4 separate regions of the Homo sapiens genome follow, and all the other regions are linked to region 2. Evidence: fine-mapped expression QTL. A gene starts in region 2. Each other region holds a variant in brackets. All regions are shown on one strand. Distances are between the middles of the regions.

Region 1 (5,000 bases), 84 kb before region 2:
AAGCACTGTTTTAAGAGGTTGGGAGTCATAGGAGAGTTGGCCCTTTCCCTTACTGCTTTTACAGACTATTCTTCTCTACCTAGACCAGAAGCCCCTGGTCCCTCTGTCTCCCTTTCCCCTATGCCACCCTCAGAGGTCAAACTCCAAAGTGGGAAGATCAGTAGGGAACCTGAACCTGCGGCTGGCCCACAGGCCGAGGAGTCAGCAACTGTCTCAGCCCCTGCACCCATGAGCCCCACAAGAAGACGAGCCCTGGACCATTATCTCACCCTTCGAAGGTGAGTATGCCTAATCAGTTTCCTCAGATTTTCTTTTCTCTCTGACACCCTTGTTTCAAAGCTATTGTTTTTCCTTTTTTTTTTTTTGAGATGGAGTTTCACTCTTGTTGCCCCAGCTGGAGTGCAATGGCACGCTCTCGGCTCACTGTAACCTCCACCTCCTGGGTTCAAGCGATTCTCCTGCCTCAGGCTCCCGAGTAGCTGGGATTACAGGCATGTGCCATCACGCCCGGCTAATTTTGTATTTTTAGTAGAGACGGGGTTTCTCCATGTTGGTCAGGCTGGCCTCGAACTCCTGACCTCAGGTGATCCACCTGCCTCAGTTTCCTAAAGTGTTGGGATTACAGGTGTGAGCCACCGCACCCGGACTCCCATTGTTGTTTTCCATCTTTGGTTTCGTTTTGTTTTAGCCACCCAACTTACATGGCTCTCAATTTTTTCTCACTGCTAACTTTTTTTTTTTTTTTTTTTTTTTTTTTGGTAGAGACAGGGTTTCACTATGTTGGTCAGGCTGGTCTCGAACTCCTGACCTCAAGTGATCCACCTGCCTCGGCCTCCCAGAGTGCTGGGATTACTGGTGTGAGCTCACCACTAACTTCTTAATAAGCCTCTTTCCTGATCGATGCTATTTTCTCTGATGTTTCCAGCTCTGGATGGATCCCAGATGGACGAGGTCGATGGGTAAAAGATGAAAATGTTGAGTTTGACTCTGATGAGGAGGAACCACCTGATCTCCCCTTGGACTGATACCCTTTTCCCATTCATTCACAAATAAATTACAATGGGTGCTGAGAACTTAACTTTCCTTAAGTCTGGTTCCTTGTTGGATCTCAGGATTTCAGATCTGTTCATTCTCATTCCAACTACTCCTTGCCTGCAAGGTACACAGCTCTCCACACTCCTTTTTTTTTTTTTTTTTTTTTTGAGGCAGAGTCTCGCTCTATCGCCCAGGCTGGAGTGCAGTGGCACGATCTCGGCTCACTGCAAGCTCTGCCTCCCAGGTTCACGCCTTTCTCCTGCCTCAGCCTCCTGAGTAGCTGGGACTACAGGCGCCCGCCACCATGCCCAGCTAATTTTTTGTATTTTTAGTAGAGACGGGGTTTCACTGTGTTAGCCAGGATGGTCTCGATCTCCTGACCTCGTGATCCGCCCACCTCGGCCTCCCAAAGTGCTGGGATTACAGGCATGAGCCACCGCACCCAGCCACGGCTATCCATACTTCTAACCCCTCCCCCACCTCCTACCAAAGCCATGCCAAGCGTCAGCTGCATCAGCCTGGTGCCCTATTAATAAGACTGTCAAAAAGAGGTCTTTGCCCTTCATGTTGTCTGCCTGCTTCTCCACTACCACTCAAAGTCCTTTCCCCCTTCAAATCACATAAGGACTGCAGGTAGGCACTAGGGGGACCTGGCCACATCTGGAAACAGGGCTGTGGCTAAGTTCCCTGTGAAAGTAGAAGAGTCAAAAGGCATTGGCAGGGTTATGGGGAACACCAAGGGAGGGAACACCCCCACCTCCTCCTAGTAACCTGAACCTCCCTGCCTGCTGATCCCCAGAGTATAAATAATCCCCTGGTGAACTGGCAGTAACCCTTGGGGGTTAGCGCCAAGATTCTCACCCCAAAGCCCAAGGAAGGAGGCAGGCAAAATGGATAGAAGGGCTTTTATTTACAGGAAAGGAGGACAGATGAGGATTTAAGTGTCCAGTGCTCCCAGCGCTAGTTGGTAAAGGGAAATGCAGTGTTATCTCTTCTTTTGCTGGCGACCTGTAAAGGAGCAATATTAAACATAAGTGTTTGTTCCAGCTCCTGCTTTCTGCAAAGGCACTCTTCTCCTTTCCAGTCCCTTAGCCAAACTCATAAATTGGTAGTGTCTTAGGCCACCTTACAGGCCCATCCCACATTAACAAAACAAAACAAGAAACCACACCACAAATAAAATTACGATACCTCTAAACAAGTATGATTATCTCTGGCATCCTTTCTACCTCTCTACTGGTCCATATTTGGGGCAGGGGGAGTTTTCTGTTTACTTTCTGATCACTCTTGGGATTTGAAATTCTCATATGAATAGCTCTTTGGTAGCACCCTGGGCTGTTAGTCATTAGGTCTGCTTTCAGGAGGATCCACCAATTTCTGCACTTCCCTGACCACTCCACACATCATGTCTGCAGTTACTCACGTAGTTCATTGTTTCGGGTCATGGCCTGGGCTGCCCGAGCTCGTGGCCCCTGCTGTGTAAAGTGGTAGCCAAAGCGGACAATAGAGGGACACTGCTCTAGCACGGTGGCCATCTCCATCTCCACTGCATCACCAGGCCACTGGCGCTGGGGGAGGGAGAGGCAAAAGCTGACAGTCACCCTCTCTGGGCTGTTTACCATCCCACATCACAGACCCCTTTGGGAGGTCA[A/G]AGAAGCTTGTTTCTCCACAGTGGGTGAAGAGAGATGCTGACTTGGCTTCCCTCACAGAGACAATGAAGAGGAGAATTCAAGCAAGATTAAGTAAGATAGCTGCCCCACTGGCTGGCTCAGGGAGGAGACTCAATGAGACTGAATGCTAACATCAGGGGAAGGGAATGCTGACCTGATTGTCTACACGGAGCTCAGTGAGTGTGGCATTTTCCCGAACTGCCTTCAGCACAGCCATGAGTCCTGTGCTGCTAATGAAGTTGGATTCGATGTTTAGGCTCTGGAGGCTACGATTCTCACGCAACATGTCAGCCACTGCCTGGGTAGTAGGGACTTGGGTTAGGATTAGGGAACAGTTTCACAGATGACTGAGGAAAGAAAGAACAGGAGCAAGAGGGAAACACAGCTCTTTGAGAAGAGTCTTTCAGGTGCTGTAAATGGAGCTAGAGGGATACAGAAAGCAGGGCGGATAGCAGGGGAAAGCAGGGAGATGAATGTGCAGTGGGACTAGGGGTGTTAGAGAGAGTAGAGAGTTATGAGCCATAGCACTGAAGGTAGGAGTCTCCATGAGGGCTGCCCTAAGAAGGCATGATGAGAATAGCACTCCCTAGCAAAACCCTTTATGACAGCCATGCAACAGGTGCATGTAAGATGTGGGGAGAGGGCTGGGGATGTCAACTAGCCTTACATTGGCAATGGGGTCACCACTCCTCGTGGCTACCAGACTGAAGCTCCGCACATAGGTATTTGCCTTCATTGCCTCACACAGCTCACTTAGCATGGGTATTGGGATGTCCTATCGGAGGGGAATAGGAGATGGTGGGCTAAGGGACTCTCGGATGTCAGTGGTTATCCGGTGTTATGGTTTGGAGGATGCAAGTCAAATACCTGTATATTATTCAAGTTCACCTCCTCCAGCTCCTTGTCATTGCTTCGGACCCTCTTTAGTATCTCCTCAATGTTTGTGGGATTTGGGGGTTCATCCGGCACTGGCTTATACTTGTCAGGCTGTACCACACCTGGTGAATGAGGGCAGGAAGGGAACCCCAACATGTTCCCCATAATCTCCTCCCCATTGGTTTTCTTTTCTTTTCTTTTTTTTTTTTTTTGAGATGGAGTCTCGCTCTATCCACCTAGGCTGGAATGCAGTGGCACAATCTCAACTCACAGCAGCCTTGACCTCCCGGGTTCAAGAAATTCTTGTGCCTCTGCTTCCCAAGTATAATATCTGGGATTACAGGCATGCAACCAGCTAATTTTTGTAGTTTTAGTAGAGACAAGGTTTCACTATGTTGGCCAGGCTGGTCTTGAACTCCTGACCTCAGGTGATCCACCTGCCTCGGCCTCCCTAAATGCTGGGATTACAGGCATGAGCCACCTCACCTGGCACTCCACAGGTTTTCTTATCACTCATGCAGCATGTCCTCTCCCAGAATCATCAATTTCACCCTTTTCTACCTTCTCCCAGACACTAGGACTGCCTGCCCAGAGCCCTGGGGACCATGCTCCCCAAACACACTCACTGCTAATGCCTTCAGTGTTGCAGATTTCTCCACTGCAGAGGGCATCATAGTATTGCTTGTTACTCATCAGTGTGTACATGTCCAGAATTGCTGGAGAGGGTAAGAAGAGGAGTCACAGGGAATGAGAAGGAACCTGTTCCAAGCCTCCCTCCTACCTATTTCTGAATCTGTTGCATTTGTAAAGCCTGACCACTTACACTTTGCCAAAGAAGTTTCCCACCCTCTTTCAGCCCCAGGGGTCCTTTCCATAAACTTCTTAAGGCAGTAGTTTCTAAAACATTGAGAAAGGGCTAAGGGAAGGTCCCTTATGAGCCACTAGAGGATAAAGGAGTCTGTAGAGACTCTCCTCTTTCAGCCAGAATGGTTCCACTTTTTTTCCCCCCGAGACGGAGTCTCACTCTGTCCCCCAGGCTGGAGTGCAGTGGTGCGATCTTGGCTCACTGCCACCTCCACCTCCCGGGTTCAAGCAATTCTTCTGCCTCAGCCTCCCAAGTAACTGGGATTACAGGTGCATGCTGCCATGCCTGGCTAATTTTTTTTGTTGTTGTTTTTGTTTTTGTTTTTTGTTTTTTGAGACGGAGTCTCGCTCTGTTGCCCAGGCTGGAGTGCAGTGGCACTATCTTGGCTCACTGCAAGCTCGGCCTCCTGGGTTCACACCATTCTCCTGCCTCAGCCTCCCGAGTAGCTGGGACTACAGGCGCCCACCACCACACCCAGCTAATTTTTTGTATTTTTAGTAGTGACGGGGTTTCACCGTGTTAGCCAGGATGTTCTCGATCTCCTGACCTCGTGA
Region 2 (5,000 bases):
GCTGGCACCATCACAATCAGCTAATTTTTGTATTTTTTTGTAGCGACGGGGGTATCCAGGCTGGTCTCGGACTCCCAACCTCAAGTGATCTGCCCACCTCGGCCTCTCAGTGCTGGGATTACAGGCGTGAGCCACCGTGCCCAGCTGGCCTTCTTTTTTTCATTATGGGAATTTCCAAACCAAAAGTAGAGTAGTATGGTGAACCACTATGTACACATAACCCAGCCTCAATAATTATCAACATAAATAAGACCAGCGTGGCCGGGTGCAGTGGCTCAAGCCTGTAATCCCAGTTTTCGGAGGCTGAGATGGGAGGCCAGGAGTTAGAGGTTGCAGTGAGCTATGTATGATTGCACCACTGCTGCACTCCAGCCCAGTGAGACCTTGTCTCTTTTGTTTTACTTTGAGACCCTGTCTCAAAAAACAAAACTATTTGTTTCTTCCAGAGGATTAAGTTAAATCCCAAACTTCATATACTTTTTTTATCTATGAATACAACATATAACCCTTAATAAAGCCTACTTTTATAAGGGTGATAACTTTAACACTATTATCATGCCTAAAAAAATTGCTTAATATCAAATATCCAGCTGATGTGATGGCTCACGCCTGTAATCCCAACACTTTGAGACTTTTTTTTTTTCAGAGATGGGGTCTGGCTATGTTGCCTACGCTGGTCTCGAACTCATGCGCTCAAGCCATCCTCCCACATCAAAAAATTAAAAACAAATTAGCTGGGCTTGGTGGCATGCACCTATAGCCCCAGCTACTCAGGAGGCTGAGGCAGGAGGATGGCTTGAACCCGGGAGGTGGAGATTGCAGTGAGCCGAGATCAGGCCACTGCACTCCAATCTGGGCAACAGAGCGACACCCTGTCTCAAACAATAAAACTTTGTAGAGACGGAGTCTGGCTGTGTTGTCCAGGCTGGTCTCAGACTCCTAGCCTGAGTTGATCCTCCTGCCTGGGCCTCCCAAAACGCTGGGATTATAAAACCTAAGCCATTGCATCAGGCCTTGAATGTAATTTTTGATTAACCAAAACGGTTTAGTGGTTTGTTCTTTGGCAGATTAGTTAATATAATTGAGTTGTCAAATCTTTTCCGGGCTCTGTACTGGGCTTAGGGAATTGTAAAGATTAAGACACGTTGCCGGCCAGGTGTGGTGGCTCACGCCTGTAATCCCAGCACTTTGGGAAGCTGAGGTGGGTGGATCATCTGAGGTCAGGAAATCGAGACCAGCCTGGCCAACATGGTGAAACCTCGTCTCTACTAAAAATACAAAATTAGCCGGGCATGGTGGAATGCCCCTGTAGTCCCAGCTACCTGGGAGGCTGAGGCAGGAGAATCCCTGGAACCCAGGAGGTGGAGGTTGCAGTGAGCCGAGATCGAGCCACTGCACTCTAGCCTGGGTGAAAGAGCGAGACTCCTCCGTCTCAAAAAAAAAAAAAAAAAAAAAAAAAAAAAAAAAAAAAAAGGCACGTTGCCCACCCTTAGTTAAACGAGGGAGGAGATAAATATACAAATAAATTCAATTGAAGGGTATAAGGGCTTGTTGAATTAAAATTCTACAGGGAACTGAGGGCTGTAGAAAGTCATTAGCGATCCCGACACTTTTTTTTTTCTTTTTTTGAGACGGAGTCTCACTCTGTCCCCCAGGCTGGAGTGCAGTGGCGCGATCTCGGCTCACTGCAATCTCTGCCTCCCGGGTTCAAGTAATTCTCCTGCCTCAGCCTCCCGAGTAGCGGGGATTACAGGCGTGCGCCACCATGCCCGGCTAATTTTTTGTATTTTTAGTAGAGACAGGGTTTCACCATGCTGGCCAGGCTGGTCTCGAACTCCTGACCTCGTGATCCGCCCGCCTTGGCCTCCCAAAGTGCTGGGCTAACAGGCGTGAGCCACCGCGCTCGGCCGATCCCGACACTTTTTTAAAATGCCGAAGCCGGAATCGACACAGCACTTTCAAAGGTTCCTCCATAGCTCCCCTGAGATCCGGCCAGCGGGAAACCCCAACTGAGAACTGCAATGGCAGGGAAAGTGGAGGCTAGATCCTGTTTTTTGTGTTACCGCGATTCCCTTCAACTACCCTCAAGACGCCTACAAATTTGTTTGGCGGCACCTACAACTCCCAGAACGCAACGTGGGGGACGGAGGCGGAAGCAGCTGGCCAAGCCGAGGTCTGTGATTGGTGAAGAGCGACGGGCCAATTGGAGGAGTTGTTGTTAGGCCGTCCCGGAGACCCGGTCGGGAGGGAGGAAGGTGGCAAGATGGTGTTGGAAAGCACTATGGTGTGGTGAGGAGCTACTTCGGGGCAGGAGGGGCAGAGCTGGGTTCCGGGCGCGTGTAGCGCCAAGGCAGGGAGGGCCTGGGGTGGGGGCCAGGGGCTCATGGGCGAGAGGCGGCCCTGGCCCCGGAGGTAAGGAGCCCGCTGGACTCCCTGAGTCATCCCGGGGCCCTGGAGTGGCGGATAGTCCCGGGTTACCACTGTTACCCCCAGGGGGACGGTCATTGACTGGTCATTCCTGCTTCCTTTCTCTGTTCTAGCGCCGTCTTCTCTAGAGCAGCCCGGGTCTGTCTTTAGCTACAGTTCTGCTTTTCGGACTCATCGTAATAGTTTTCTGCCCTCCTTTCTTTGCAAAATAACGTCTATTAGGAAAATAGATTATTAATCCCTTCCTCTCCCCATTCCCTCGTCTCTAACTTCATTACCTTTCCCTGTATCATCTTCAAAGGTACCATTTACAGATTGCTTTTTATGTATCAGTCATTTTGTTTATCTCACTTATACCTCACAACCACACCTTAAGGTAAATTATCTCTCCATTTTACGGTTCAGGATACCGAGTCTCAGCGATTTTAAGTGATTTGTCCAAAATCATACAGCTAGTTAAGTGGTGGAGTCAAGATTTAAACCCACGGCTGTCTGACACAAAGGCTTTATCCGGTGAGGTAGCTCTCTTTGTCAGTTTCAGGCTTGGGCTGAGTACCTATTACGAGTCACATTAGAAGAGGAGGACATAAATTTTTGCAGGGTTTCAAGAGTTCCTTCTAAGTGTAATCACTGAATGTAATACAGAATAGTTGACGAACACAAATCACCGATTGGGTGAAACAGGCACCTATGAGATTTCTTCTTTTTATTTTCTCGGGGGAGCATAGCATTGCCAGATAACATACAGGATGCCCAGTGAAATTTGAGTTTCAGATAAACGATGAATAATTTTTTTTTGAGACGGTCTCGCTCTGTCTCCCGGACTGGAGTGCAGTGGCCCAGTCTGGCTCACTGCAGCCTCCGCCTCCCTGGTTCAAGTGATTCCCAGTGATTGAACTAATTTACACTTGCACCAACGATAGAACAGTGTTCTCTTTTCTCGCAACCTTGCCAGCATCTGTTATTTTTTTAGTTTTTAGTAATAGCCATTCTGACTGGTGTTAGGTGGTATCTCGTTGTGGTTTTGATTTATTTGCATTTCTCTAATGATCAGTGATATTGAGGTTTTTTTAATAGGCTTGTTGGCTGTATGTATATCGTCTTTTGAAAAGTGTCTGGCTGGGGCGTGGCTCAGGCCTGTAATCCCAGCACTTTGGAAGGCTGAAGTGGGTGTATCACCTGAGGTCAGGAGTTACTGACCAGCCTGGCCAACATGGTGAAACCCCATCTCTACTAAAAATACAAAAATTAGCCAGGCGTGGTGGTGGACGCCTGTAGTCCCAGCTACTCCAGAGGCTGAGGTGGGAGAATCGTTTGAACCCCGGAGGTGGAGGTTGCAGTGAGCCGAGATGGCGCCACTGCACTCTAGCCTGGGCGACAGAGTGAGACTCCCTCTCAAAAAAAAAAAAATAATAATAAAATAAATAAATAAATAAATAAATAAATAAAAATAAAGTGTCTGATGTCTGTTCATGTCCTTTGCCCACTTTTTTTTTTTTTTTTCTCTTTGAGAAGGAGTTTTGCTCTTGTTGCCCAGGTTGGAGTACAGTGGCGCCATCTCAGCTCACTGCAACCTCCGCCTCCCTGGTTCAAGTGATTCTCCTGCCTCAGCCTCCTGAGTAACTGGGATTACAGGTGCCCGCCACCACGCCCAGCTTTTTTGTATTTTTGGTAGAGACGGGGTTTCATCATGTTGGCCAGGCTAGTCTCAAACTGCTGAGCTCAGGTGATCCACCCGCCTCAGCCTCCCAAAGTGCAGGGATTACAGGCGTTGAGCCACTGTGCCCGGCTCCTTTGCCCACTTTTTTTTTTTTTCGCTCTTATTGCCCAGGCTGGAGTGCAATGACACAATCTCAGCTCCCCGCAACCTTCGGCTCACCGCAACCTCCGCCTCCCGTGTTCAAGCGATTCTCCTGCCTCAGCCTCCTTAGTAGCTGGGATTACAGGCATGCGCCACCACGCCCAGCTAATTTTGTGTTTTTAGTAGAGACCAGGTTTCTCCATGTTGGTCAGGCTGGTCTCGAACTCCCACCCTCAGGTGATCCGCCCGCCTCAGCCTCCCAAAGTGCTGGCATTATAGGCGTGAGCCACTGTGCCCGGCCGGTCTTCCAGGATTTTTATAGTTTTGGGTTTTACCTTGTCTTTAATCCATCTTCAGTTAATTTTTGTGTATGGTATAAGAAAGGAGTCCAGCTTCAATCTTCTGCATATGGCTAGCCTAGCCAGTATCCCCAGTTATTGAATAGGGACTCTTTTTCCTCACTGCTTGTTTTGTCAGCTTTGTCAAAGAATAGATGGTCATAGGTGTGCGGCTTTATTTCTAGACTCTCTATTCTGTCCCATTGGTCTCTGTGCCTGTTTTTGTACCAGTGCCATGCGGTTTTGGTTATTGTAGCCCTAAGTAATAGTTTGAAGTTGGGTAAAGTTGCCTCCAGCTTTGTTCTTTTAGCTTAGGATTGCCTTGGCTTTTCTGGCTCTTTGTTGGTTCCATATGAATTTTCAAATAGTTTTTTCTAGTTCTTTGAAGAATGTTTTTGGTAGTTTGATAGGAGTAGCATTGAATCTGTAAATTG
Region 3 (6,205 bases), 21 kb after region 2:
TTAAGAGCTGTAACACTCACCGCGAAGGTCCGTGGCCTCACTCCTGAGCCCCCAAGACCACGAACCCACCAGAAGGAAGAAACTCCAAACACATCCGAACATCAGAAGGAACAAACTCTGGACACGCTGACTTTAAGAACTGTAACACTCACCGCGAAGGTCTGCGGCTTCATTCTTGAAGTCAGTGAGACCAAGAACCCACCAATTCCGGACACAATGCCATTCTCCTGCCTCAGCCTCCCGAGTAGCTGGGACTACAGGTGGCCGCCACCACGCCTGGCTAATTTTTTGTATTTTTAGTAGAGACAGGGTTTCACTGTGTTAGCCAGGATGATCTCCATCTCCTGACCTCGTGATCCGCCCGCCTTGGCCTCCCAAAGTGCTAGGATTACAGACGTGAGCCACTGCGCCCAGCCCAGCTTAGCTTTTTAACAGCTTAGTTCTTTCATCTTTGTTTGAATACAAAGGCCAAGGAAAATAGTCTACATGTTATTTTCAGGAAAATTTTCTGTATAAATTATTGTTATTGAAGCATTAATTTTCTATTTCATGATCAGGTTACATGCCTTGGAAAGGATGTAGTATATGATGAAATTGCCCAAATCATTTGAATGATAATAAAAGTTTAAAAAAAAAAAAGAAAAAAATTAAAGGTGGCTGTGTGTAACAAGATGTTGAAAGGTTTTCCTGGTTGTGTTGGAGTTTGAGCTGAGTCTTAAGGACAGAAGTGTACACAGGTACCCCCACATTGTAGAAAAATACTTTTCCAGCCACGCAAAAGACAGCACAATTCCTCCAGCTCCCATGGCCCCCACTGCCACCTGCAGCCTCTATGAGATGACACATTTGACACAGGAAAGAGAGCACGCTCATGGAGATAGATCTGTTGTTGATTGCTGATCTCTCTGGAGTCCTTTGGTATTCCCTGTTTCTTGTTCTTTAGGGGCGAGGGGAGGACGCAGACCAAGGTAGGACAGTACCAAGAGACTGGGAGTGCCTGTAAGAAACAGATGGGCATCTGAGTCCTTGGCTGGATGTTTCCTGGGTGGCAGAACTCCTGACCCAGTGTTGTCAAAGACCACAAGCAAGTCACTGAGAGAGAGTTCTGGAAGAGCCTGACATGAATTTACTGGTATTTGGGAGATATAAATGAACATAGAGACCAATGTCTGCTGAATGGGACATGTGGGAGGTTGGCTGGAGCCCAGACCTGGAATGGTGGCACTAGTGGGTAGACTTTATTTCAGCACCTGGCATGCTAAGAATGTGGGAGTTTCCCACGGACCAAGAGGAAAGCATGGAAAGTACCCAAGCTTGAGCCATCCAGATAGAGCCTGCCCAAAAGGAGTTCCTGAAGGGCAAGAAGAGCCCAATGGTAAGATGCCATGGGGCAAAAGTGCAGGGCACTGTGCAAGAGGTCACCTGGAGAGTGCACTGCAGATGCCAGAGAAAAGGGCAGTGGAGAGGTCCTGTAAGTCTCCCAGGGACCTTCAAATATGCTCCACCCAAGAGAAAGCGAGCATTTAGGAACCTGTCACACAGAGGGCTCTGACAGCCCCTGTCATGTAAAACTTGACTCCTTTCCTTCCTCGCACCATCCCAACTCTGGAGAAGCCAGAGGCAGGAAGGGAAGGGAGGGTGAAAGAAGAGCAACAGGCCGCGTGCGGTGGCTCATGCCTGTAATCCCAACACTTTGGGAGGCCGAGGCGGGCAGATCATCTGAGGTCAGGAGTTTGAGACCAGCCTGGCCAACATGGTGAAACTGTCTCTACTAAACATATAAAAATTAGCCAGGCGTGGTGGCGGGCGCCTGTAATCCCAGCTACTGGGGAGGCTGAGGCAGGAGAATTGCTTGAACCTGGGAAGCGGAGGTTGCACTGAGCTGAGATCACACCATTGCACTCCAACGTGGGCAACAAGAGTGAAACTCCATCGCTAAATAAATAAATAAATAAATAAATATAAAAATAGGGTAGATGTGGTGGCTCATCTCTACCAATAATAAAAAAATTAGCTGGGCGTGGTGGTGCATGCCTGTAGTCCCAGCTATTCGGGAGGCTGAAGTGGGAGGATCACATGAGCCCAGGAGCTCAAGGCTGCAGTAAGCCGAGATTGTACCACTGCGCTCCAGCCTGGGTAGCAGAGTGAGACCCTCTCTCAAAAAAAAAAAGCCAGGCATGGTGGCTCACGCCTGTAATCCCGGCACTTTGGGTGGCCGAGGTAGGCAGATCACGAGGTCAGGAGTTCGAGACCAGCCTGGCCAGTATGGTAAACTCCGTCTCTACTAAAAACACACATAAAAAATTAGCCGGGTGTGGTAGTGGGCACCTGTAATCCCAGCTACTCGGGAGGCTGAGGCAGGAGAATCGCTTGAACCTGAGAGGTGGAGGTTGCAGTGAGCTGAGACTGTGCCATTGCACTCCAGCCTGGGTGACAGAGCGAGACTCAGTCTCAAAAAAAAATTATAATAATAATCAAGAATGAGGATAGGAGTAGTATAGGACAGAGTGGGGTGAGGCAGAAGATGGCTGCAACAAGGAGAGGTGGTGGGTGCTATTAACAGAAGGTGCCGCGCCATTAATCTGGGGGTATGTGTGTCTGTGTGTGCATCTCCAAAGATTCCTCCTACTAGCCAGGCGCAGTGGCTCACATCTGTAGCCCCAGCTACTTGGGAGGCTGAGGTGGGTGGATCGCTTGAGCCCAGGAAGTTGAGGC[T/C]GCAGTGAGCCGTGATTGCACCACTGTACTCCAGCCTGGGTGACAGAGCAAGACCTTGTTTAGAAAAAAAAAAAAAAAGTGTGTGTGAGTGTGTGTGCATATATCTATCTATCTATCTATCTATATATATATATATATATATATATATATGCACACACACACATTCCTCTTACTCTTTCCTAGGCAATGGTTACCACAATTCTGCTACTATCACCATTGATTTACTTTGCCTGCTCTTGAACTTTATTTATTATTTATTTTTATTTTATTTTATTTTTTTGAGACAGAGTCTTGCTCTGTCGCCCAGGCTGGAGTGCAGTGGCATGATCTCGGCTCACTGCAACTTCTGCCACCTGGATTCAAGCGATTCTCCTGCCTCAGCCTCCCAAGTAGCTGAGATTACAGGTGCGTGCCACCACGCCTGGCTAATTTTTGTTTTGTTTCAGGATCTTGGCCAGGCTGGTCTTGAACTTCTGACCTCGTGATCCACCTGTCTCAGCCTCCCAAAGTGCTGGGATTACAGGTGTGAGCCACCACGCCCAGCTTGAACTTTATATAAATGGAATCATACTATATATTTATAGTATATATATACATAAATAGAATCCTACTCTCTATGTGAAGTTCAAGAATTTTTTCTTTTTTTTTTTTTTTTTTGAATCGGAGTGTCACTCTTGTTGCCCAGGCTGCAGTGCAATGGCACAATCTTGGCTCACCACAACCTCTGCCTCCCGGGTTCAAGCGATTCTCCTACCTCAGCCTCCCGAGTAGCTGGGATTACAGGCATGCACCACTAAGCCTGGCTAATTTTGGTATTTTTAGTAGAGACAGAATTTCTCCATGTTGGTCAGGCTGGTCTTGAACTCCTGATCTCAGGTGATCCACCAGCCTTGGCCTCCCAAAATGCTGGGATTACAGGAGTGAGCCACTGCACCCGGCCCATTCCTGCTGATTTAAATATCCAGGTAAATGAATCTTCCAGGCCACTGGCCTCTCAGTCTCTTGATCTCCCCTCCTAGTCCATTCCTCTCTCCTGAATGCCTATTTCCTATCTTTTTGCTCCTCAAATTCCTAGTTTCTTCTTCATCCTCACTCTTAGAGAGTGATCTTGATTTTTTATTCCCACGAAGAGTTTGACAACACATGTTCTTGTTTCTTATACCACTGGACAACAGAAGCAACAAAGAGATATCCCACAGCTCCCCAGCTCCCTCGACCCATGCCCGCTCACTCTGCCTTCTCTCCCAATTATTATTCGGGAACTGTCCCTGCCCCTGTGTAAGGCAATTCCTCTGTTTGTGAACTTGACCCTCTCGCTCACCTTCTGAAGAACATGACTCCAGAAACTTTCCCTATCGCTCTGCTACAACTTCGGTTTTTCCTGTCTACAGGATCCTCCCCACCCGTGTACTGACATACAACTTCTTCATCTTCAAACAGTCCTTTCCTTGGGTCAGTAGAACCTGATGAGAAAAAAATGTAACCATTAAAAGAAATAGTCCTCTTGGTCACTCTTTTTCCTCTAGTTACCATCTTTTTTCTCCTTCCTTCCTTTGAAAGAGTTTTATAGTGACTTTTCTTTTTTCCTCCTCCATTCTTGTAAACCCATTCCATGAAGGCTTTTGTCCCCACCAGTCCATCAACTCTCTCCTCATCATGATCACCAGTGACCTCCATTTTGCCTTAATCCATTGGTCAATTCTCAGGTTTCATCCTATTTGATATTTTAGTGGCATCTGACTATCATTCTCTCTTCCTCTTTCTTGAGATACTTTTTAAATTTAGCTTGAAGGTTACAACACTCTCCTGGTTCCTTCCTTCCTCTTTGCTGTTCTTCTCATCTCCTTGACCTTTTAACTTCGGAGTTTCCCATGCCTCAATCCTCCCTTGGTGATCTCATCCATTCTGACCTGGGTTTTAAATACTATCTATAAGCTGATGACACCTACATTTGTATCTCCACTTGGATGTGTAATACCTCAACATGACTAAAACTGAGCTACCGACCTAACCCCTAAAACCTGCATCTCCTGTAGTCTTCTCAGCTCAAGAAATGGGGCAACATCATGCTTCTACTTCCTCAGCCTCCATGCTTTGGAGTCTTTTTCTTTCTTCCACACCCCACTTTCAACCCTTTTAAAACGTTTAAGTCAGGCCACCATGTCATCTGTCTCCTTTTGATGGCTTTCTAACCCACCGTGAGAAAATGCCAAAGACCTTCCCATAGCTTCCAAAGCATCCCATGACCCAATTCACTCCTCCCACCCCCTCTGGAACACACTCCCCTCCTGAGGACCTTGTACTTGTTCTTTCCTCCTGGAATGTTCTTGTCCCAGATAGCTGCATGGCTCACTCCCTCATCTCTTTCAGACCTTTACTTAACCACCATCTTCTCGAAAAGGCCTTTACTGTCCACCCTACCTAAAATTGCAACCCTCCCACACTTACTGTCATCTTTCCTTGCTTTTGTTTTTGTTTTTTTGAGACAGAGTCTTGCTCTGTCACCCAGGCTGGAGTGTGGTGGTGCGATCTCGGCTCAATGCAACTTCTGCCTCCCGGGTTCAAGCGATTCTCCTGCCTCAGCCTCCCAAGTAGCTGGGACTATAGGCGTGTGCCACCATGACCAGCTAATTTTTTGTATTTTTAGTAGAGACAGGGTTTCACCATGTTAGCCAGAATGGTCTTGATCTCCTGACCTCATGGTCCACCCGCCTCGGCCTCCCAAAGTGCTGGGATTACAGGCATGAGCCACTGCGCCCAGCCGCCTGCTTTGTTTTTTTTTTTAAATTGTTTTTGTTTTTAAATTAATACACTTTATTTTTTACAGCATTTTTAGGTTTACAGAAAAATTGAGCACAAAATGCGAGTTCCCACACATCCTCTCTCTCCAGTTTCCCCTATTATTATTATTATTTTGAGACAAGGTCTTGGTCTTTTGCCCAGGCTGGGGTGTAGTGGTGTGATTACAGCTCACTGCAACCTTGACCTCCAGGGCTCAGGTGATTCTCCCTCCTCAGCCTCCCAAGTAGCTGGGACCACAGGTGTGCACCACCATGCCACGCTACTTAAAAAAAAGTTTTTTTGTAGAGATGGGGTCTCTCCATGTTGCTCAGGTTACTCTATTATTTATTAATATCTCGCATTAGTGTGGTACATTTGTTACAATTGATGAACCAATATGGAAACATTATTATTAAGAGACAGGGTCTCACTTTGTTGCCCAGGCTGGAGTGCGGCAGCAGGATCGTAGCTCACTGCAGCCTCAAACTTCTGGGCTCAAGGGACTCTCCTGCTTCAGCCACTTGAGTAGTTGGGACTACAGGTGTGCGCCACTGTACGCGGCTAATTTTTCAAATTTTTTGTTGATCCTCCCGCTTTGGCCTCCCAAAGTTCAGGGATTACATGTGTGAGCCACCATGCTCACAGGGTTCACTCTTTGTGTTGTACATTCCATGGCTGTTGACACATGTATCCACTATTACAGTATCAC
Region 4 (6,205 bases), 28 kb before region 2:
TTTATACTTATGTTTAGTTTGACTCAAACTCTGATGGTTTCAGTATGCTTGACAGAGATGTGAGTGTGTGATACACTCTTATGATTGTTTTTTTTTCCCCCCTAGCAGCATCTGGAATCAAGAGACCCATGGCATCTGAGGTGAGTTTCATACTGATACAATGGTTACTAAAACCTTAATTCTGGGATAGAAGGAACCTGTTTATGACATTTTTATTTTTTCTCTACTTAGGTCTTGGAAGCTAGACAGGATTCTTACATCTCATTGGTAGGCTAGAAATTATGCAACTCATCTTTTATTGTAGTTTATTTTAAATATTAACAATATCTCACATTTATTGAGCATTTTTAATGTACCAAATGCAATATATACCAAAAAGTAAATACTGTACCTAAGTGCCCTTTAAGATATTCTTATTTAATCCTTCAAACAACTACAGTGAGGCAAATACTGTTATCTGTTTTACAGATGAAGAAAGTGAGGATTGCATAGTTACTAAGTGGGATTAGTAAAGCTGGGATTCAAATTCAAACCCAGGCAGTCTGACACTAAAGCTCACTTTCTTTGTTTTGCTGTTATGGCCTCCTGATTGCATACCTTCGATGAATATGAAGAACTTTTAGCCATGCAGAAGCTGTTAGTTTCACAAGTTTCTCTTTTTTGTCCAGAATATCGCCATTTTGCTCAACTTTCTTCCCATGGTGTATTTCCTAACCCTCTTCTCACTTCTTGCCTCTCCCCTGGGTTTTGTGAAAGGGGCCTCAGAATGCAGGCCCTTTTGACCTGGGACTTCAAACTTTCTCTCAGAACATCTTCCAGCATCTGTCAGGTGATATACTGAGAGTTTTCTGGTACTAAGGGCCTTGGCTAAAAGAATAGAACTTGAATATCAGGTCTTAAGATTGGGACATCCAGCCAGTCACGGTTGCTCATGCTTGTAATCCTAACACTTTGGGAGGCCAAGGTGAGAGGATTGCTTGAGGCCAGGAGATCGAGACAGGCCTGTGCAACATAGTGAGACCCTGGTTCTACAAAAAAATAAAACATTAGCCAGGTGCACACCATAGTCCCAGCTACTCGGGATTGCTTGAGCCCAGGAGGTTGAGGCTGCAGTGAGCCATTATCACACCACTGCCCTCTAGCCTGGGTGACAGAGACACCCTGTCTCAAAAAAAAACTGTGATACCCTGTTTCCACTAGTCTCTCAGCCTTCTGGCTTATAAACTTAATGAGTATTGATGTTATGAAGAGTAACTTCATGTCTGTTGCTCTGGCATTTTGGCTCTTGGGGATAACTTTCTAGACTGCTATACTGGTTTACTCCTCCCTTCTTGCCTTTTTTTTTTTTGAGATGAAGTCTTGCTCTGTTGCCCAGTATGGAGTACAGTGGCTCGATCTTGGCTCACTATGTCCTCTGCCTCCCAGGTTCAGGCAGTTCTCCTGCCTCAGCCTCCCAAGCAGCTGGGATTACAGGTGCACGCCACCATGCCCGCCTAATTTTTGTATTTTTAGTAGAGGCAGGGTTTCACCCTGTTGACCAGACTGGTTTTGAACTCCTGACCTCAGGTGATCCACCCGCCTTGGCCTCCCAATGTGCTGGGATTACAGGTGTGAGCCACTGCGCCTGGCCTCTTTTCTTTTTTCTTTTTTTTTTTGAGACAGAGTCACGCTCTGTCGCCCAGGCTGGAGTGCAGTGGCATGATCTTGGCTCACTGCAACCTCTGCCTCCTGGATTCAAGTGATTCTCCCGCCTCAGCCTCCTGAGTAGCTGGGATTAGAGATGCACGCCACCACGCCAGGCAAATTTTTTGTATTTTTAGTTGGAGATGGAGATTTGCCATGTTGCCCAGTCTGGTCTCAAACTCCTAGGCTCAAGTGATCTTCCCCACTTGGCCTTCTGAGTAGCTGAGATTACAGGTGCATGCCACACCACCCAGCTATGTTTCTTTTCTTTTTTTTTTTTTTTGAGACAGAGTCTTGCTCTGTCACCCAGGCTGGAGTGCAGTGGTGCGATCTCGGCTCACTGCAACCTCCACCTCCCAGTTTCAAGCAATTCTCTGCCTCAGCCTCCCGAGTAGCTGGGATTACAGGTGCCTACTACCACGCCTGGGTAATTTTTGTGTTTTTAGTAGAGACAGGGTTTCAACATCTTGGCCAGGCTGGTCTTGAACTCCTGACCTCGTGATCCACTTGCCTCCACCTCCCAAAGTGCTAGTATTACAGGTGTGAGCCACCGCACCCGGCCATCGCCGAGCTGTGTTTCTACTACTGTTTAAAAATACTCACCTTTGGTTGGGTGCAGTGCCTCACACCTATAATCCCAGCACTTTGGGAGGCCAAGGCGAGTGGATCACCTGAGGTCAGGAGTTCGAGACTAGCCTGGTCAACATGTTGAAACCCCATCTCTACTAATAATACAAAAAATTAGCTGGGTGTGGTGGTGCATTCCTGTAATCTCAGCTACTCGGGAGGCTGAGGCTGGAGAATCGCTTGAACCCGGGAGGTGGAGGTTGCAGTGAGCCGAGATCGTGGCATTGCACTCCAGCCCAGGCGACACAAGCGAAACTCTGTCTCAAAAAAAAAAAAAAAAGTACTCTTATTTTCTGGCCGGGCATGGTGGCTCACACCTGTAATCCCAGCACTTTGGGAGGCTGAGGCAGGTGGATCACTTGAGGTCAGCAATTTGAGATCAGCCTGGCCAACATGGTGAAACCTCATCTCTACTAAAAATACAAAAATTAGTCAGGTGTGGTGGTGTGCACCTATAATCCCAGCTGCTCGGGAGGCTGAGGCGAGAGAATTGCTTGAACCGAGGAGGTGGAGGTTGCAGTGAGCTGAGATTGTGCCACCGCACTCCAGCCTGGGCAACAAGAGCGAGACTCTGTTTCAAAAAAATAA[A/G]GAGTAAAAATACTCACTTTTATTTTCTGTGTCTTCTTTCTGAGGACCAAAGGGAAAATATGTGTCCCTTGGAGTTTTCTTCTGTGATCTTTTAGCCACTTAATTCATTGGGAACCAACATTATAGCTGTATATTTGCATGGGATAGATCTGAAGATTTTGTAAAATGTTTTTAATCTAGAAAGAATATGTTGTTTCAGTTTATTTTGTTTTGATGTACCATTGTGGTAGCTATTTGGTGTCTTACATGGGAATTGTATTATAATCTTGACTCTTCTTCTAGGTGCCTTATGCCTCTGGCATGCCCATCAAGAAAATAGGCCATAGAAGTGTTGATTCCTCAGGAGAGACAACATATAAAAAGGTGTGTCTGGATGAAACCGTCTCATCTTACTCCAGGAGCTCAGCAGCTTACTCTGGGAACTCAGTCTCCTTGAAATTACTCTCCATGTACTGTCCTGTTTCTTGATCTCCTAAGCTTTTGCACATAATACAGCTTAGACTTTAGATTTATTTCTCAAAGGGTAAATTGTCTCCTTTTTGTATATGAATGTTTAAATGAGATTTTTTTTGGCTGGGCACAGTGCCCCAGGCCTGTAATCCCAGCACTTTGGGAAGCCGAGGCAGGCAGATCATTTTAGGCCAGGAGTTCAAGACCAACCTGGCCAACATGATGAAACTCTGTCTCTACTAAAAATACAAAAATTAGCTGGGTGGCACACGCTTGTGGTCCCAGCTACTCGGGATGTTGAGGCACGAGAATCGCTTGAACCTGAGAGGTGGAGGTTGCAGTGAGGTCAAATTGTGCCACTTGGTGGCACTAGCCTTGGTGACAGAACAAGACTCCATCTCAAAAGAAAAAAAAATTAGTGAACAAATCTGGCATTGGTTGCTATTTTACTGAGCTGAAGAAACTGGGTTTCCCTGTTAGGTATAAATATGTAACAAGGCCATGAAAGCCATTCTTATCTTACCACAGGGAACCATGTCTCTCGCAGTCTTTCTGTCTTTTTGTCCATTGCTGGGTATATATCAATAGAGGGCCAGGTCCCAGCCCAGCCTGTTGATACAAATATACACAATAGGTCAGACTTTTTTTTCTCTTCCATTTTTTTTTTAGAGCCAGGGTGTCAATCTGTCACCCAGGCTGGATTGCAGTGGCATGATCATTGGCCGGTAGCAGGAGGCTATTGTAACCTCCGACTCCTGGGCTCAAGTGATCTTCCTGCCTCAACCTCCTGAGTAGCTGGGACTACAGGTGCACACCACCACACATGGATAATAATAAATTAGTTTTATGACATGATCTCGCTGTGTCGCACAGGCTGGTCTCAAACTCCTGCCCTCAAGCATTCCTCCTACCTAAACCTTCCAAAGTGCTGGAGTTACAGGGGTGATTGACCGTGTCTCACCCCCTTTTCCTCCACAAAGACAGTCATTTAGCTGGCGAATAGTACCTAGGACATCTGCTTTTTTGAGCTCTGAATATCAAATGGACTGGAAAGGAGCAGTAATAGTGAAAAAGTGGAAATTGGGCTGGTGAAGGGAAAACAGAAGCATCCTGGATCCTTGAGGGATCCAAATTCTTGAGTTCTGGACTGGTTTTCAGATGGTTTAGGCTTCCTGAGGGACAGTGTTCAGTCTCCCATTTAGCATCTGTGGTTTGTCTAATATGGGATGTGAAGATTTCTTGGAGTTCTAGGTTTCTGGCCTATGTAAATTTTGTGTTCATTCTCTATTTCATTGTCCCAAGTAGCAGAGGTGGACTGACTCATTCTCAGTCAAGGACCTGACAGTCCCCAGAATGGACTCTGTGGCTCATGTCAATTACTTTTACTGAGCTCTTCATTTTTAAATTTTTTTTTTTTAAGAAATGGGATCTTGCATTTGGGAAGCTGAGGCGGGTGGATCACCTGAGGTCAGGAGTCGGAGACCAACCTGACCAACATGGCAAAGCCCCATCTCTACTAAAAATACAAAAATTAGCTGGGCGCGGTGGTGGGCATCTGTAATCCCAGCTACTCAGGAGGCTGAGACATGAGAATAGCTTGAACCTGGGAGGCGAAGGTTGCAGTGAGCCGAGGTCGCGCCATTGCACTCCAGCCTGGGCAACAGAGCGAGACCCCGTCTCAAAAAAAAAAAAAAAAAAAAAAAAAACAGGAAAGAAAGAAATAGGATCTTGCTCTGTTGCCCAGACTGGAATGCAGTGGGTGCGTTGATGGCACACTGCAGCCTTGAACTCCTGGGCTCAAGCCATCCTCCTACCTCAGCCTCCAAAGTAACTGGGACTACAGGCCTCAGCCACCACACCTGGCTTATTTAGCTTTTTTTTTTTTTTTTTCCTGAGGGAGTTTTACTCTTGTTGCCCAGGCTGGAGTGCAATGGCGTGATCTCCACTCACCAAAACCTCTGCCTTGCGGGTTCAAGCGATTCTCCTGCCTCAGTCTCCCAAGTAGCTGGGATTACAGGCATGCACCACCATGCCTGGATAATTTTGTATTTTTAGTAGAGATAGGGTTTCTCCATGTTGGTCAGGCTGGTCTTGAACTCCTGACCTCAGGTAATCTGCCTGTCTCGGCCTCCCAAAGTGCTGGGATTACAGGCATGAGCCACAGCACCCGGCCATTTAGCTCTTTTTATATGTTGAACATTAAGATAAAAAGATGAGTTTCTATTATAACTGGGGAGGCAGGTACTTAAAAAAAAAAAGAAACTAATAATTTATTTTCCTTTGACCTATTTGTACATGAAAAAAACTAGTTGTAGGCTGGGCATGGTGGCTCATGCCTGTAATCCCAGCACTTTGGGAGGCCGAGGCAGGTGGATAACGAGGTCAGGAGATCGAGATCATCCTGGCTAACACGGTGAAACCCCATCTCTACTAAAAAAAAAATACAAAAAATTAGTCGGGTGTGGTGGCTTGCGCCTGTAGTCCCAGCTACTCAGGAGGCTGAGGCAGGAGAATGGTGTCAACCAGGGAGGCGGAGCTTGCAGTGAGCCAAGATCACGCCACTGCACTCCAGCCTGGGCGACAGAGCGAGACTCCGTCTCAAGAAAAAAAAAACAAAAAACTAGTTGTAATTTATTGCCCATTGAGGACCAAGTAGAAATATAAGTAATGCCTGGCCGAGGTTGGGGATGAGGCAAATGGAGCAAAGCTATCTAATCAAAGTTTCTGCAGTGATTGAAATGTGCTGTATCTGTGCTATCCAATATGGTAGCTAGTAGCCACACTTGAACTGTAAGTAGTAAGACTGAGAAAATGAAGTTTTAAATTTGAGTTAACTTAAATTTAAATAGCCATGTGT

What was found.
Region 1: its variant is fine-mapped to the expression of PSMD4 in whole blood (INTERVAL, PIP 0.96).
Region 3: its variant is fine-mapped to the expression of PSMD4 in whole blood (TOPMed, PIP 0.97).
Region 4: its variant is fine-mapped to the expression of PSMD4 in whole blood (TOPMed, PIP above 0.99).

Annotation. Positions count from the first base shown.
Region 1 is chr1:151,168,061-151,173,060 of GRCh38, forward strand. It overlaps TNFAIP8L2-SCNM1 (TNFAIP8L2-SCNM1 readthrough), which reads left to right. Exons shown (of 7, transcript NR_144937.2): 6 at 89-278; 7 at 926-2,236. It overlaps SCNM1 (sodium channel modifier 1), which reads left to right. Exons shown (of 7, transcript NM_024041.4): 6 at 84-278; 7 at 926-2,236. The coding sequence ends at 1,025. TMOD4 (tropomodulin 4) reads right to left here. Exons shown (of 10, transcript NM_013353.3): 5 at 4,208-4,297; 6 at 3,573-3,703; 7 at 3,373-3,480; 8 at 2,860-3,003; 9 at 2,459-2,603; 10 at 1,927-2,043. The coding sequence ends at 2,021. Among named protein-coding and RNA genes, the nearest start is that of SCNM1, 4.4 kb to the left of the region's middle. The variant A/G (reference allele first, on the strand shown) is at 2,687.
Region 2 is chr1:151,252,520-151,257,519 of GRCh38, forward strand. PSMD4 (proteasome 26S subunit ubiquitin receptor, non-ATPase 4) reads left to right here and starts at 2,215. Exons shown (of 10, transcript NM_002810.4): 1 at 2,215-2,289. The coding sequence starts at 2,264. RefSeq lists an enhancer at 2,107-2,296 and a silencer at 2,337-2,476.
Region 3 is chr1:151,272,862-151,279,066 of GRCh38, forward strand. No RefSeq gene overlaps it. Among named protein-coding and RNA genes, the nearest start is that of ZNF687-AS1, 6.0 kb to the right of the region's middle. The variant T/C (reference allele first, on the strand shown) is at 2,716.
Region 4 is chr1:151,224,140-151,230,344 of GRCh38, forward strand. PIP5K1A (phosphatidylinositol-4-phosphate 5-kinase type 1 alpha) reads left to right here. Exons shown (of 16, transcript NM_001135638.2): 2 at 106-140; 3 at 232-267; 4 at 3,181-3,261. Among named protein-coding and RNA genes, the nearest start is that of PSMD4, 27 kb to the right of the region's middle. The variant A/G (reference allele first, on the strand shown) is at 2,899.